Homo sapiens: one gene and its partners. The protein of the gene in region 2 interacts with the protein of the main gene of each other region in a pairwise test. Each region holds a gene or a part of one and is shown on either strand. Other genes may lie near its edges.

The links.
Region 1: the proteins of DSCAM (region 2) and METAP1 interact in a two-hybrid assay, tested with the Homo sapiens proteins (one large-scale study listed by BioGRID and IntAct).
Region 3: the proteins of DSCAM (region 2) and KDM4C interact in a two-hybrid assay, tested with the Homo sapiens proteins (one large-scale study listed by BioGRID and IntAct).

Annotation. Positions count from the first base shown.
Region 1 is NC_000004.12:99,037,109-99,040,763, forward strand, and holds part of METAP1 (methionine aminopeptidase 1), read left to right. Parts: intron 1-16; exon of another isoform or gene 17-833; intron 834-2,265; coding exon 2,266-2,357; intron 2,358-3,655. UniProt on the Homo sapiens protein: Cotranslationally removes the N-terminal methionine from nascent proteins. The N-terminal methionine is often cleaved when the second residue in the primary sequence is small and uncharged (Met-Ala-, Cys, Gly, Pro, Ser, Thr, or Val).
Region 2 is NC_000021.9:40,074,129-40,077,783, forward strand, and holds part of DSCAM (cell adhesion molecule DSCAM isoform CHD2-42 precursor), read right to left. Parts: intron 1,086-3,655; coding exon 909-1,085; intron 1-908. UniProt on the Homo sapiens protein: Cell adhesion molecule that plays a role in neuronal self-avoidance. Promotes repulsion between specific neuronal processes of either the same cell or the same subtype of cells.
Region 3 is NC_000009.12:6,988,443-6,992,097, reverse strand, and holds part of KDM4C (lysine-specific demethylase 4C), read right to left. Parts: intron 1,683-3,655; coding exon 1,574-1,682; intron 1-1,573.

The DNA of each region.
Region 1 (3,655 bases), on a different chromosome or scaffold from region 2:
TTTTCTTCCCTTTTGAAATGTTTATTCATATCCTTAGCCTTTTTTTCCCTGTTAGAGTACTAGTTTTTTCCATATTGATTTATAAATGTTCTTAGTATATTAACGAAAATAACCTTTTGATGTATGTTTTTAAAACTGTTTTTTACCAATTGACCGTTTGTTTTGTCATTACATTTATTACAGATTTTGAGTATCCTAACATAGTAAAATTTATCAGTGTTTTATTTTACAGTGTGTATGGCTCTATGACCTAGAAAGACCTTTTTGGTGCAGAAGTTATAAAAAAATATTCCTATGTTTTCTTCTAGCATTTTTATGGTTTCAGTCTTTTTTATGTATGATAAAAATCATTTGTATATCTGAAACTTACTTGGCATAAGGAGTTAAATAGGGATGCAACTTAATTTTTTTTCTCAGAAGGATACCTGGTTATTATATCACCAGTTATTTAAAAAATCAGCCTTTCCTTATTGATTTGAAGTGCAACCTATATTGTTGTATTATGTTCTCACATGTCTTTAGGTCTATTTCTGGATTCTATTCTGTTTTATTAACCCATTTGTCTAATCATGTACCACTGCCAAACTTTTAATTATCATAGCTATATAATGTTTAATATTTGGTAGGCCTTGTTGCCCCTACCTTTCCTCTTTTTCAGAATTTTCCTGGCTATTCTTGCATGTTTGTTTTTCCATGTGAAATTTAGAATCAGCTTGTCTGGTTCTCAAAATTATCCTGTTGACATTTTTTTATTGGGATAGTATTAAATTTATAGATTAATTTTGGAAGAATTGACATCTTTACAATATTGAGTCTTCCTGTCCAGGAACAGGGTATGTTTTTAAAGTTTTATTTGACTCCTTTTATGTCTTTCAGTGGTGTTTTCAGATTTTCTTCATGTAGGGATTTTATTGTTAAATTTATTCCTGGGTACTTCATCTTTTTAGTTGTTTTTGTACATAATAGCTTCTGTATTTTTTAGCTGATTATTTGTATGTGGGAAAGTTATTGATTTTGATAAATTTATCTTAAACAATATGCCAACTTGCTGAATTTGTATTTATGGTCATTTACCAGGTGATTCTTCTGTTCTAGAGATACATAATCACATCTGAAATTGATAAGAATTTTGTCCTTTCTTTTCTAGTTTTATATGTTTTATTTCTTTCTCTTGTTTAATTGCATCTGCTAGTATTGCCAGGACAGTGTTAAATAATAGTGCCGATAGTGGGCATTCTGTAATGTTGGTTCTCAGTTTGAGATTTATATTTATCATGTCAAGGTGGTAGCTGGCCATGTTATCAGAATTAACTTTCCTTCTAGATGATTATTTACTTTTACTTTATTTATGAATGATGAATTGGATGAATAGATTTGTCAGTATTGAACTATCCTTGCCTTCTGGTATGAATCTCACTTGCATCCTGATGTATTAAGTTTTTTTGGATTCTGTTTGTTAATATTTTTATTTGGAATTTTTCCATTAGTACTTGTAAATAAGATTAGTTGACATTATTTTTGTTAGATTTTGAGTTAATTGCTATCCTGGCTTTATTACTTTTCATGTATGTAAAACTTGAAGCTAACAAATTTTATTAGTGAAGATTTTTAGGGCAATATTTTTAAAACTTTTTTGAGTATGACTCAGAAATGGCTTTTATAACGTGATCTTTGTATGTGTATATAAATAAAGATTTCATGGCAGCACTTATTCCTACTCCGTATAATACGAGTATAATACTTTGTTATGCCATTTTAATATTTTCTGTCCCATTTATTTACTTTTAAAAAATGTTAAGTGTAGCCTAATAAAAGGTCACAAACTGGAGATTGAAAAACACTTAACTTTGGTTCCTGTTTCAGAAAATAGTGTAATTAATTCATCAGTTGTTGATGTATAATTGCTTCATGAGATGATTATGAAAGTAATTTGTAAATTCTGTGGTACTTTTCAAATGTATATCATTTACTGAGTCTGATTATCACACGGCCTGGCATATAATAAGTACTCTATAAGTATTGGCTGATTTCTAATAGGTCTGAAAATTTATCTTTTAGAATTTTTTCTTCAGTTGGTTTAGCGAGTTTCCCTTTGATGTTGAAAATGTTTTTTTTTAAAAATCTAACCTAGACCATCCCAAATCATGAATTACTGTTGTGTGAAACAGTGAGACTACTGTTTTTATGCCACAGGTTTATAATTATGCAAATAAATACTACATCTTTGCATTCATTTTGGTTTTACTTACCGAATTTTCATTCCAGGAATGTCTGAATCTGAACAGGCTCTTAAAGGTACTTCTCAGATTAAATTACTCTCATCTGAAGATATAGAAGGGATGCGACTTGTATGTAGGGTAAGAGTGATTTTTTCTCCATGGGGTAGGAAATGTTTAAGCAGTACTTAGACATGAAGTCAGTGGTTTGCTGATTTATAAAGATAGCAAATGTTATATTGTTAGACTGACCAGCCATGCTTTTTTTTTTTTTTTAACTTTTTTTTGAGACAGAGTTTCACTCTGTCGCCCAGGCTGGAGTGCAGTGGCGTGATCTCTGCTCACTGCAACCTCCACCTTCTGTTTTCAAGCGATTCTTCTGCCTCAGCCTCCTGAGTAGCTGGGATTACAGGTGCCCACCACCACACCTGGCTAATTTTTGTATTTTTAGTAGAGATGGGGTTTCACCATGTTGCCCAGGCTGGTCTCGAACTCCTGACCTCGTGATCTGCCCACCTTGGCCTCCCAAAATGCTGGGATTACAGGCGTGAGCCACCACACCTGGCCTTTTTTTGTATTTTTAGTAGATACAGGGTTTCACCATGTTGGCCAGGCTGGTCTCTAACTCCTGACGTAAGGTGATCTGCCCGCCTCGGCCTCCCACAGTGCTGGGATTACAGGCGTGAGCCATTGTGCCCGGTTTAGCCATGCTTTTCATTAAACTATTGTTAGTATATAATTTTAGTCAACAGTTTTCTTCTTAAAAGCCTATTTCAGAATTAATCTGGTGGATAGTCTATATTTAGATGACAATCCTTTTCATTTATTTAATGATATTTAAAAACATTTTGTCATTTTATTTTCACAAGTCATCATAACATAGGACAGAGTTTAAGGCTCAGAGGGTTATGCTGTAGGCCTTTTTGTGAAATACCTATGATGAGTGGTAGTAGTGGTTGGTACTCATTAGGTGAAATCACATATTTATTCTGAAGGAAAATATAATACATTGATATTATTCATTTAAGTAAGATTCTTAAGGTTTCTATTCAGTGCTTTAAAAGTGATTTGATTCTAATTTTGTTTGATATCCTGGAGAACTTTCTCTTCCTATGACTTGCTGTGATTCTTTGAGGAATTCATTCATCTATTTTTTTTTTTTTGAGACAGGGTCTTGCTATCACTCAGGCTAGAGTACAGTGGCACAATCATAGATCATATAGATCATAGCTCATAGCTTACTGTAACTCCAAACTCCTGGGCTCAAGCTATCCTTCCACCTCAGCCTCCTGAGTAGCTGGGATCACAGGCATGTGCCACTACACCTGACTACTTTTTTTTTTTTTTTTTTTAAGAGACAGGATCTCACTATGTTGCCCAGGCTCATCTGTTCTTTTTTCTTTTCCTCTACTTTTCCCCATTATAGAAATGAGAGAAGA
Region 2 (3,655 bases):
CGTTTTCTAAATGTATCAGTAAAGTTTGGGATATGTTTTGAGGAGAGAGTGCTTCCAGATTTGTACTTTGAACATAACTTTGAAACACACATAGGATGCTGCATAGCAGTATCCCACACTGCACTGATATTAAAATGAAAATCCCTTGTAATACACGTTACCGAAAAAGTGGCTTAGTTAAACACCCTCACTGGTAAAGGGCAAAGGACCTGGGAACACGTCTGCACAGTTTCATATTTGAAATAACTCCCTGTCCTCACATTGCAGAGCAAGGGCAAGTAAGGGCTCTTGGCCAGAAGCTGAGAACAGCCTCATCACAGAACGACACGGGGCTGGACATTATAATCATGGTGTCTGTTCACAATGGAGCTCATCTGGCCTGGCTTCTCCAGCCTTCATTATGTTTTTGCTACATTAGAGTGAAACTCTTACACTGGGCTTCAGCTCCCGTTTCTAATTTGGGATGGCATGTGTCCTCTGCCTCACAATGCTTCACCAGTATCCTAAGCCCTCAATTTCCACTTCCAGTCAGTCAAGTAATTCTCATTCCCAGAGCAAATCTGATAGATCTTTTCATAGAAAGCCACAATTGGTGGCTTTGCTGGACCCACTGAAAATTTAAGAGACTAGAGTTAAAAAATTAATTTTCCTTGCATACCAACAGCTAGGATTTAGGGGACAGGTTGGCTTTCACCTGATTTCTGACCGAGATAGGAACATTCTTATTGCTCTTCCCTGAGGCTCTGCAGTCTCGCTGAAGGAATGTCAGAGAACCAGGCAGTGGAGGGACCTGGGTTAAAGAGGGAAGAGTCACTCCCTTTTGAGGTTTGTTCTCCAGCTGGCATCTCTCCCATTGGCTGCAGAGCAGCAGGGGACACGCGTAGGTGGACAGCTGGGCCTGGACCTACCTCGCAGCCTCTTTAGCCTCTGCTCCCGCCGCCTCCTCCGCACAACCAGCAGGAGCACAAACAGCAGCAAGACCCCCACCAGGATACAGGAGATGGTCACCAGCATCTTGAGCCCCTCGTTGGTCGTCAGCCCTTCTTCGTTTTGGACAACTGACTTAATGAGTGGAGGAATTGTACCTGAAAGCAGGGCCACGGTGTTAGATGGCTATTAATGAAGACGGCATGGCGGAGCTTTTAGGGATGACAGGTTATAAAAATCGCGCTGTGTGATCCAAGGGTGTTGGAGGTGATGAGAAATGAAAAGAACTCTGTCTCTAGGCCCTGGCTAACTTTTTTTCTTATTTATTTCCCTCCCTCTGCCTGAACTTCCAACTTATTCTATAGTGCACGTTTGAAAAGGACTTCATTTTGCAATGCACTACAGTGTGCAGGCACTTGAAAGCATGAGGCCCAGGCTTGGTGCTGACAAAAGCCACATGCATCTACCCAGAATTAAGTGTTCCCTTGACTGTCACCCACAGTACAATTGATAGAGACTATTCGAAAAAATTGCACATCAAAGAATGAACAAAAGGTTGGGCAAATGGACAGAAGCGCGTGTGCAGGGAGAGGGTCCTAGATACACTGGCATAAAGAAACTCAAATCCCTTGTGATTAGGTAATTTGCTGGCTTTTATCGCAGGTGTAAGACCAAATCTACTTCAACAGCTGTGGTTTGAGGGTACAAGAGCTACAGACAGCTTTTCAAAGGGGACCCAACTAGGTTTCTAAAGGAGCCTACTTTTGATCAGGCATGGTTAAATAGTGCTACAAAATCTAGATTATTTCGAGTAATAAGGAAACACTGAAGGAAGATGAACTCTGAGCTATCTTAAGCTGCCTTCTATCCAGATGCTCAGTACCGTGGGTGCAGAGATCTAAACACAGGCATCCACTTTTTATGAGGTATATATTTTGCTACCCTCCATTATATAAGATGCTCCACGCCACTGCACTTTCCATGTACAACAAGGGCCAGAAAGTCAGCACTTCAGGAAAAGAGAATGCAAAAATAATATAATTTCTCCCTCAGCAAAACGGTCTTTATCCTGCATTTAGTAAGCAGAGCAGGGATAATGGAATCCTCGTTCCTCTGTGATCTCTGCTAAAGCTGAGAAGAGTGTTCTCCCAACTTTAAAGTGTTTTTGTGGAAGCCCAAGTCTCCAAATGCTTAGAAATTCAGGAAAGAGGCACTTACAGGATGCCCATGAAGAGGGGTCTGCAAAACCAAGACAACACTAGGTCAAGCAGAAACATTCGGCTAAGGAAATGGCAGAAGAAAGAGTGAGATCATTAAATGGAGGACTCTGAAACCTGAGTGGTATGAATGTAGGCTGCCAATCTTGGCTTTCTCAAGATAACAAAGTTCTTCAGGCAGATGTGACAATAGAGGCTATCCATTCATGAGACTGGTCCAAAGAAATCTGTAATCTCTCTCAAGGAAAATATAAATATGCAGCCATATTTCTTAGTGTAATAAAGTGATTTCATATTTCCAAAACGTAAAGGTAGCTTGCAGCATTTTTCAAAATTTGGGATCTTGGATAAAGTGAGAAAATTATATCTTTTCTTAGAAGACAAACATTTAAAATCCGCAGAACACTTTGTGAATTAGAATCACAGTTTCAAATTCTACACATGAGTAGTTTCTAATTAAATCATTAGCTGTGAGCATATCATCAGTGTGCACATTTAAGCTGGGTGCCCAGGCATCTGCACATATTATAGAGAAGCTGGGAACCAGAGTGTGAATATTGCAAGATAATGATCTAAAGTAAAAAAGATACTTACTACTCAAATGTGTGCTGGTTAACAGAGGATTTTGGTGCACCCTTAAATGCTAAGTAAAGTGTCTGGTAAGTGTCAAAGTTCTTTATTTTGTAAGATCAAATAATTCAACCATATTACAGGGAGAGGCCAGCTTGGAAGTGCTCCTCTGCCTCTGGGTGATGCTTTGTGATGGGGACACCTTTGAATGAAGTCACTGAAGAGTGAGGGCTATAAAATTAGAAAGAGGCAGCCCATGAAAAGCATCAGCCCTTGAAGAGAAAAGTTGTCGTCTGGGAGGGCATAGGCTATTCTGGGGCCATAGGACAGAGCCCGTGCAGAGGCCAGGGACCCCGGCTAGCGTAACCAACACTAGAAGAGCTTTCTACAAGCTCAAGGTCTTCCTACAGCCCTGAGACCCAGGCCAGAAGTGCCAGGAAGACCCTGGACTCTGGCAGAGAAGGATGTTGTGGAAAAATGACCTTGGACAGGAGATTTGGGGTAGGTCTGCTCTGTGTGCCAAAGCAAGAAGAGCCAGCCCTGGGCCATCCGGACATTATAGGAGAAATTGGTCCGATGAAAATCCCAGGCAATGTCACCTCATTAGCTCCTGGTGGTCATTTCTGTGGGTCCTTAGGTTCACAGCCACTCTTCTTAGGATGGCATAAACTGTGCTCCAAGGAGCTACCTGCTGGAGCTTTAATAAAGCGGCCTCCCAAATGCACAAAGTAAAGAAAGAATCACTCTCCTAGAGAGCAATGCTGATGCTTTTCATGGGCTGCCTCTGTCTAATTTTACAGCCCTCAGTTATGAGTGACTTCATTGAAAGGCATCCCCTCACAAAGCATCACCCACAGGTAGAGGAGCACTTCCAACGTGGTCTTGGCTTGGCTGTCAATAAAGGGTTTGGGTGTTTCTTGGTTAACTCATTCAACACTGTG
Region 3 (3,655 bases), on a different chromosome or scaffold from region 2:
TTACACAGAATTGTCATATGTCTTAACACTAAAGGGAAAATGGTTTGTACTGGGTATAATAAAGTAGCAAAAAAAAAAGAAAAAGAACTCAACATTATGATATATGGAAATCAATGCAAATATGTTTCATTACTTCTATTACTTGAATCAGAATTCAACCCTGGATTGGTTTCATACAAACTACTATGATCCCTAATCCCTACATTCATGATATTTTTACTTTTTTATGATACAGGGTCTCCCCAAGTTGCCCAGGCTGGTCTTAAACTCCTGAGCTCAAGCAATGCTCCCACCTCTGCTTCCCAGGCAGCTGGGACTGCAGGAGTCAGCCACTATGCCCTGCCATGATCTTGTTTTCTAACTAAACATGGGACATAAGTGAAAAGTGAGTGAAAGGGGGAAAAAATCTGTGAAAGATATCTACCTACTCTGATAAATTTATTTAAACAAGAAACTTGAGCTTCTTGTTACTCACTTAACAGTATTCTCACAGACACATGACCTTAGGTAATAATTTCCATAAGTAAAACTGGAGAATACTTCAGAGAAGGACTCTTAACAGAAAACCTGCCTGAATTAATCCTCTAAACACAGAAAAAATAAGGCCTTCATGATGCTAGGAGACATATACAAGACACTTACGAATCAGGGATCTGATTTTTAATTTGAGGCAACAAAAATTTCTTTTTTATAAAAGAAAGGTGAGAAGGGTAACCAGGCATGCAGTGGCTAATGCTTATAATCTCAGCACTTTGCGGGGCTGAGGCAGGAGAAATGCTTGAGCTCAGGAGTTCAAGACTAGCCTGGGCAATAGCAAAACCCATCTCTACAAAAAAAAATTTTTTTTTTAAATTAACCAAGCATGATGGTGCATGCTTGTGGTCCCAGCTGCTTGGGAGGCTGAGGTAGGAGGATCACTTAGGCCTGGGAGGTTGAGGCTGCAGTGAGCCGTGATCACCCTCCACTGCACTCCAGCATGAATAACAGAGCGAGACCCTGTCTTGAAAAAAGAACAAAAGGGGGAAAAAGATAAATTTACATCTAGGAATGGTAAATGATTGTAAATGAAACTGCGTTACATCCAGCTGCATCACAGCGATCTAGTGAAGGAAAAAGGATGTTTCACCCCACACCAGTTACAAAAGGATATGGAAAAGGATATGGCACATAGACTTTTACTGAAGGTGGTTAAATTAATGTAAAGAGTTGAAGTTAAAAGTAAAGACAATGTAAAGAAACCTACAGCACGTTAACTCTAAAATCTAACACCTTTAGAGAAATGAGTCTCAGCTTCTTCTGTAGAACCCTAAAACATGTCAAGGCTGACTGATTTTACCCCATGACATAAAACTGGAAGACTTTTACCAGTAATAAGGCTAGCTTATATGAAGTACGTCTTTACCTCTAAGTTCCAAATTCCTTTTACCTGTAAATTATTTATTATGTATGATCTCCTAATAGTACGTATTTGCTACTTGTTGAATTTTTTTTCTATTCAGCAATTTTTTTTACAATAGTTTGTTTTACACACCAAAAAAAAAAAAAAAAATCCCAAAAAGGGTCACCATCTCACCTTCATCACTTGGCGCCTGCTGCTTCACAAGAGTCATCGGAGATCTTGCTGGAGGCCTGCTAAGTGGATGGCGCCAACTCTTAGAGGTTTTGTTCTCTCCCTCTGCTATCTAGTTATAGAACAAAAATGGTGGAGAAATACCATTATCAAAAACAAACTACAAAAAAAAAAAACCCTACAGTTCACAATTATTTATCACTTAATGTTGAAGAAATCTTGTGGTTGTTTACCTCTTGGGGAACTAGTCCTTTAAGAAATTTAAACTTAAGGTCAAAAGAAATAGGAATCAATTCTATTAGTAATTTTAGCCAGAGGTCAATTAATTCTTCTTCCACTTTGTATTAAAATACAAGCTGTAGGGCAGGGTAGGCTTATTAAACCTGCAATAAGCTCAGCAGTTAACAAGTTTTCTAAAGTTCTTACAACTAATGTAAATTTAGGATTATAGGCCAGGCACAGTGGCTCATGCCTGTAATCTCAGCATTTTGGGAGGCCAAGGTGAAGGGATCCCTTGAGCCCAGGAGCTTGAGACTAGCCTGGGCAACATAGGGAGACTCTGTGTCAATAATTTAAAAAAAAAAAAATAGCCAGGTATAGAGGCATATGCCTGTGGTCCCAGGTCCTCAGGAGGCTAAGGTGGGAGGATCCCTTGAGCCCAGGAGGTGGAGGCTGCAATGAGCCAAGATCAAGCCACTGCACAACAGCCTGGGTGACAGGGCAAGACCCTGTCGCCAAAAATAAATAAGTAAATCTAAGATTGCATTCTCATAAAAATACAGGACTGTGGCTCTTGGTCACCTCTAAGATGTTCCCATGTTAACATTTAGCAAGGAATTTTATTTTCTATCCTCACAGAGAAGACAATACTGCAACACTTCTTTCCATTCAGAAATGAATCACCACTTCTAGATCACATAAATAACAATTAAACAAGAAACCAAAAGTATTCTCTTTTTTTAATGATACATTAATGCCATGTTGAAACCACTTAAATTTTACCAATGATTTTTTTGTCCTGGGATTTACAGACTATATATTCCTTTCCCGGGTAGAAAGTCATGTGTATCCTTACACCTTCCAGCTAGGACCCACCTTTTAAGCTCTCTTGCTCGCACAACGCAAAATTTTTAAAGGCAGGGGGAAGGGAAAGAGGATATCAGAGAGAGTTTGAACCCAGCAAGCTTACATCAAGAGTTGACTATGAAAGAAAACAATCTTAGTCTTCTTCCCGGTAAGCTGAAGAAGCAGTGGCCAGATATAGGGAAACTACTCTGGCCTCTGACTCCAACACATGATTCTAAGAAAATGTGTAAGACCATTGTAATCAAAGCTAGGAATAAGAAAAGAATGACAAATGCAATATACGATGACAGCTATCTATGTTTATAATAGCTAAAAAACAATATGGGAAATTATAACACAGCCAAGAAGACATATCAACACACTACTATGCACCATACCGTTGTCATAGCTGGAGCTATAGCAGGAAAAATTACATCAGGTTTCTGCTCTCAAGAAGTGTAGATTATAGAGGGGTAAGGGAATACATAATAAATGAATAAGTCGTATTTATCAAATACTACTCGGTAAATATGTAACGAAGGAAAATAAAGAAGGACAAAGGAATAGAAAGTGATGGGGAGGGGGCAGTTTTATAGGGTAATCAGAGAAGGCCTTTCTGATACAGTGATACTTGAGGGGAACTTTGAGTGCATACATATGATTATCTGGGGGAGGAGCATCTGGGGGAGCAAGAATAGCACGTAAAGTGAGAACATACTCGGTGTGTTCCAGGTACAGCTTTGAGCCCAAGATGAATGGATGGATGGATGGATGGATGGATGGATGGATGGATGGATGGATGGATGGCTTTAAAAAATAACATAATACTTATTGAGTAGATCAGCTAATGCCAGCAGCTATCAGCATACACATAGCATTACACTGAATACTAAAAAAAACTGACCAAAACTACACAAAAATTAAGTGGGGCTGTATTACATCTAGGAGTTATCCAACACCATGGTGTAAGAAAAGGATGTCATGCAGTTGTTCTTACAGGCAAGCCAAGCCTCTCAGCCT